Regions from separate parts of the Homo sapiens genome. Here region 2 is linked to region 1. The links come from fine-mapping of genetic effects on gene expression. Tissue or cell type: whole blood. Region 1 holds a variant in brackets; the other region holds the start of a gene. All regions are shown on one strand. Distances are between the middles of the regions.

What was found. PIP is the estimated chance that this variant, and not a neighbour inherited with it, causes the effect.
Region 2: HIP1R starts here. The variant in region 1 is the best candidate, but not a certain one, in a credible set for the expression of HIP1R in whole blood (INTERVAL, PIP 0.58).

The regions. Positions count from the first base shown.
Region 1 is chr12:122,805,586-122,808,493 of GRCh38, forward strand. It overlaps CCDC62 (coiled-coil domain containing 62), which reads left to right. Exons shown (of 13, transcript NM_201435.5): 10 at 566-710. Among named protein-coding and RNA genes, the nearest start is that of HIP1R, 28 kb to the right of the region's middle. The variant C/T (reference allele first, on the strand shown) is at 1,610.
Region 2 is chr12:122,833,796-122,836,703 of GRCh38, forward strand. HIP1R (huntingtin interacting protein 1 related) reads left to right here and starts at 1,662. Exons shown (of 32, transcript NM_003959.3): 1 at 1,662-1,848. The coding sequence starts at 1,756. LOC124903040 (a long non-coding RNA gene) reads right to left here and starts at 1,438. Exons shown (of 2, transcript XR_007063501.1): 1 at 1,379-1,438; 2 at 760-1,043. RefSeq lists an enhancer at 1,264-1,313 and silencers at 1,564-1,803, 1,974-2,173.

The DNA.
Region 1 (2,908 bases):
CTCCCTGCAAGCTCTGCCTCCCGGGTTCACGCCATTCTCCTGCCTCAGCCTTCCGAGTAGCTGGGACTACAGGCACCCGCCACCACACCTAGCTAATTTTTTGTATTTTTAGTAGAGACGGGGTTTCACCGTGTTAGGATGGTCTCGATTTCCTGACCTCCTGATCCGCCTGCCTCTGCCTCCCAAAGTGCTGGGATTACAGGTGTGAGCCACCGCTCCCGGCCACATCCAGCTAATTTTTGTGTTTTTAGTAGAGATGGGGTTTCACCATGTTGGCCAGGACAGTCCTGATCTCCTGACCTCGTGATCCACCCAGATCAGCCTCCCAAAGTGCTGGGATTATAGGCATGAGCTACCATGCCCAGCCTTATTTTAATTCTTATTTGCAAAAGGTATGCATTAACTTATAATATTCTATTCCAATCTATAATGTTCTACTCAAACTTGACCTGCTTCAATAACAAAAACACTTATTTGTCCTTTTAAGATACTTTTGAGTATAAGAGTGATCTATGTATGATATTGTTTTAAGATATTTGTTTTTGTTGGGTTTTCTTATTCTTAGTGAGCTAATTGCCATCCAAGATTCCCACTCTTTGGGTTCTTCAAAATCTGCCTTGAGAGAAGATGAGACGGAGTCCTCTTCCAATAAAAAGAACTCACCTACGAGTTTGTTAATCTACAAAGATGCACCAGCATTCAATGAAAAGGTTCGTATTTTGCTTAGACATCCCCAGCTTACTCAAGCCAGGCCTCTCACCAGCTTTTAATGCTTCTCTAGCAACCACTGTTAGCTTGCTTATTTTGGCTATTCCTCCGTTTTTTTTTTTTTTTTTTTAATTCTAGGATTTTAAGATGCTTTTAAGGCAATCCTTTTATTTATTTTATTATTTTGTGTTTTGTTCTGTTTCTTTGAGACAGGATACTCAGTCACCCAGGCTGTAGTGCAGTGGTGCAATCGTGGCTCACTGCAGCCTCAACCTACTGGGCTCAAGTGATCCTCCTGCCTCAGCCTTCCAAGTAGCTGCAACTACAGGCACATGCCACCACGCCCAGCTAATTTTCTCATTTTTTTGTAGAGACAGGGTCTCAATTTGTTGCCCAGTCTGGTCTTGAACACTTGGGCTCAAGTGATCTTCTTGCCTTGGCCTCCCAAAGTGTGCTGGGATTATAAGTGTGAATCACCGTGCTGGGACTATTTTTTTCTTTCGAGAAAAATTGTATTTTTTTTTTTTTTGGCAACTTGATATATGTTGGTTGTAAAAAAAAAAAGAAAGAAAAAAGAAAAAGAAAAACAAACCACAAGAACAATACAGAAATATAGATATCACCTAACTGCTTGGTCTCAGCTGCCCCTTCCTCCAAATACACAACCCCTGGCAGTGTCTAGAGAGACCCAGGTGACACGTTGGTGGGCTTGCTTACAGATTTCTCTATCTGCAGAGACATGCATACAGACTAATGTGTGGTAAATGGGATTTCATTATATGAGAAAATGTGTGGCAAGGTACAGTGCCTCGTGCCTGTAATTCCAACACTCTTGGGGGCCAAAGTGGAAGAATTGCTTAAGCCCAGGAATTCAGGATCAGCATGGGCAACATAGCAAGAC[C/T]CTGCCTCTATTTTTTGTTTCAATAAAATTTTAAAAACATAAAAGAGGAAAACATCGCCAGGCGCAGTGGCTCACGCCTGTAATCCCAGCACTTTGGAAGGCCGGGGTGGGCAGATAACCTGAGGTCAGGAGTTCGAGACCAGCCTGACCAACATGGTGAAACCCCATCTCTACTAAAATAAAAAAATTAGCCAGGTGTAGTGGCGGGTGCCTGTAATCTCAGCTACTTGGGAGGCTGAGGCGGGAGAATCGCTTGAAACCAGGAGGCAGAGTTTGCAGTGAGCCGAGATTGCACCATTGCACTCCAGCCTGGCAACAGAGTGAGACTCTGTCTCAAAAAAAAAAAAAAAAAAAGGTAAACATCTGACATCTATGATTTACCAAGATACCAGGGTGGCAAATTGAAATCTTCATCCCACTAATGGGATTACAGGCACAAGGCACTGTACCTGGCCAGACATTTTCTTGTATAATAAAATCCCATTTACCACACATTAGTCTGTATGTGACAGACTAATAGTGACACATTCATTACACCCAAACCCCTTTGGAATTCTTCCTCTGCCCTGTGCGTCCCTCCCTATTCCCAGACAATCACTCACTAATCTGTCTTCTGTAACCCAGATTAGTTTGCCTTTTCTAGAATTTTATATAAATGCATTCAAACTTTTGTGTCCCTCTTGTTTCTTTCACTCAGTGTAATTATTTTGAGATTAACTTATGTGACTGTGTATATAAATAATTCCTTTTTGTTGCTGACAAGTATCCTATTGTGTGGATATATTAGGTTGATGCAAAAGTAAGTATGGTCTTTGTCATTAAAAGTAATGGTAGGCCATTAAAAGTAATCCCAACACTTTGGGAGGCCGAGGCAGGCGGATCACTTGAGGTCAGGCGTTCGAGACCAGCCTGGCCAGCATGGTGAAATCCCCTGTCTACTAAAAATACAAAAATGAGCCTGGTGTGCTGGTGTGTGCCTGTAATCCCAGCTACTCAGGATGCTGAGGCAGAAGAATTGCTTAAACCCGGGAGGCAGGGGTTGCAGTGAACCAAGATCGTGCTACTGGACTCCAGCCTGGGTGACAGAGCGAGATTCAATCTCAAAAAAAAAGTAATGGCAAAAACCGCAATTACTTTTGCACCAACCTATTACCACAGTGATTTAGCCATTCATTTGTCAGTGGACATTTGGGTTGTTTCTGGTGTGCTAGATAATACAAATAAAGCTGCTTGCATATTCATGTATCATAAGTCTTTGTATAGACACATTTTTTTTTCGTTTATCTAGGAATGGAATGC
Region 2 (2,908 bases), 28 kb after region 1:
TTTTAGTGATTGGAATTAGAGAAAACAGGATTAATTTCTCCTTTTGGTGCAGTGACAGGAGAGTCTTGGCAAATGTTATCTTTTGGGGTCAGCTCTAGCTCTTGGGCTGGAGGGTGAGGAATCAGTTAAAGAAAAGGGTCCCTGGCGGGGTGTGGTGGCTCACGCCTGTAATCCCAACACTTTGGGAGGCCGAGGCGGGCGGATCACCTGAGGTCGGGAGTTCGAGACCAGCCTGACCAACACGGAGAAACTCTGTCTCTACTAAAAATACAAAATTAGCCAGGCGTGGTGGCACATGCCTGTAATTCCAGCTATTTGGGAGGCTGAGGCAGGAGAATTGCTTGAACCCAGGAGGCGGAGGTTGCGGTGAGGTGAGATTGTGCCATTGCACTCCAGCCTAGGCAACAAGAGTGAAGCTCGGTTAAAAAAAAAGAAAAGAAAGAAAGAGAAGAAAAGAAAAGAAAGAAAGAAAGAGAAAGAAAGAAGAGAGAGAAAGAGAGAAAAGAAAGAAAAGAAGGAGGAAGGAAAGGAAAGGGAAAGGGAAAGGAAAGGAAAGGAAAGGAAAGGAAAGGGTCTCTGACCTCAGACAGGTTACAGTCTCACTAGGGAGACAAGGGTCAGGATTACGTGGGCGTCATTTTCCTCCTTACAGGCAGGCGGTGCCTCTCCCTTCAAAAGCAAGGGACCTTTATGCATGATTCCACATCTGCATTCCGATAGGAAAGGGAAACAGCAGAAACACAATACCCATCTGAGAGCTACGCTTAGAGAGGACTCTGGGCTTTTATTTATTTTTTTACTTCAGTCTTGTGACCAGTAATTTTAAGGGAAAGCCAATAATAATGTTTTTAAAAAGCCTCACGCCACCCCTGGCGGCATCTCCTCGGTGTACTTTGCTGTTCAGATCCGCCTGCCTTCTGTGCCAGCCTAACAGCGCCCGGCCTCAGCCCCCATTGTCCCTGGAGCTGGCGAGGTGTCCGGTTGCGGAGCCGGCGGCGTCTCTGGAAATGCATCCTGCATCCCCGCATGGATAACAGCTGCAGCTATGTCAGAATTGCACAAAGAGGGGAGAGTGTCATTGTGTGCCTTTTGACACATACATTAAGACCAAAAAGGAAAAAAAGCGTCTATCTGTGCTGCCACCGACCAGACTCATGGAGGCCAGATTTTCTCCAATTAACCAGATCTTGCCCTGGTGCAGACAAGACTTAGTGAGTTCGGAGGAGGGGTGGGGAGAGGGAATTGGCTGGGGTCCCTACCCTGGGTGGAAGGAGGAGGGAGGGGTTCCCCCTCCCCCTTCCCCTACCCTCCCCTCCGGGTTTAGGGAGGGGATTAGAGGTGGGGAGGAGCTGGGGGGGCGTTTGGCCTGTGCCCCAACCTTGTGAGTGAGGTGGGGGTTGGAGGTGTGCGGGGGGCGGGGCGTGTGCCGGGGTCGCCGCGGGATGGGGGGTTGGGGATGTGCGGGGAGAGGCGCGTGTCCCGAGATCGCGGGGGGTGGGGTTGGAGGTGTGCGGGTGGAGGGGCGCGCCCTGGAGTTGGGGGCGGGCGAGGCGTTTGCGGGCGCGGGGGGCGGGTTTGGAGGTGTGCGGGGGAGGGGCGTGCCCTGGAGTTGGGGGCGGGGCGAGGCGGGCTCCTCCCCGGCGGGCGGGCCCGGGCGCGGCGCGGTGGCCTCGCGGTGCCTAGGCTGGGGCTGCCGGACCGTGAGGCTGTGAGTCGCGCGGACGGAGCCGGACAAAAGCGGGCGGCGGCGGCAGGATGAACAGCATCAAGAACGTGCCGGCGCGGGTGCTGAGCCGCAGGCCGGGCCACAGCCTGGAGGCCGAGCGCGAGCAGTTCGACAAGACCCAGGCGAGCGGGCGGCGGGCGGCGGGCGGCGGGCGGCGGCGGGCGGGCGGGCAAGCGGCGTCCCTGACCCCTCACGCGCGAACGGCTGGGGCCCGGGAGGCGCCGGCCAGGGGCGGGGGACGGCGCGGGGGCAGGGCCTGTGTCCGCCCGGGCTCTCCGAGAGCTCCGCTGCCGCCCCCCGCCGGCCTCCGCGGCCCGAGCCGACCGGCGCGCAGGTGAACCGGAAGCCGCGCTCCCCGCTCCCGCCGGGCGCTCGGGCCCAGAGGCGCCGGGGCTGAGGGGGCCGGGGTCAGGGTGTGCGCGGGCCGGGAGCGCCGGAGCTGAGGCGGCGGGGGACGGAGATGGGGCCGGGGTTGGGTGTGCGCGAGCCCAGCGCGCCGGGGGTCGAGGGGGCTGGGGATCCAGGTGCTCCCGGGGCCGGCGCGGCCCGACTGGGGTCCCCGACCTTCCGTGCCGCTCCTTGCCGGCTCCTGCCCCCGTCTCCTACCCCCTGAAACCGATGCCCCCACGGGCAATTTCCTTAAAGGAAATTCCTTAAACTCCCAGCTTCCTTCTCTCGTGAGCGGTTTCCCAGGGCTGCACAGTCTCCTATTATTTGCTGGGTGAAAAGCTTCTCGTATGTCGCCAGACTTGTTTGCCCGAGCGCTGCCCACGTATAAATAGGTGCACACCCCCTCATTAAATACCGGCGCCCGACAGACAGAAACTTCCTGGGGCTCCCTTCCTGCGCCTCCCACGCTTGTAACTCTTCCAGATGATGCCTATCCTGGGAAGGCGTTAGAAATGAAATAAGGGCGCGGGTGTGCGTTTTGTACTTGTGTTTGTGCCGGGGACCCACGATGCAGACGTTGCTGCGTTTCTGGTTTCCTGTTGCTTTTTATTTTACAAACTCTTGAAGTGCTCTCAGGCTTGGGGGATGGGCGGTGGAGGGGGGCATACTTGTTTATTTGCCAAAATAAGTCAACCAAGACTGAAATGGCTGAAAAATTTTACTCTAGAGATAAAGGAAGCCAGAGGACCCCTCCCACTCCTGTCTAAAGCAGGTTGGTGACATTTGCGTTTG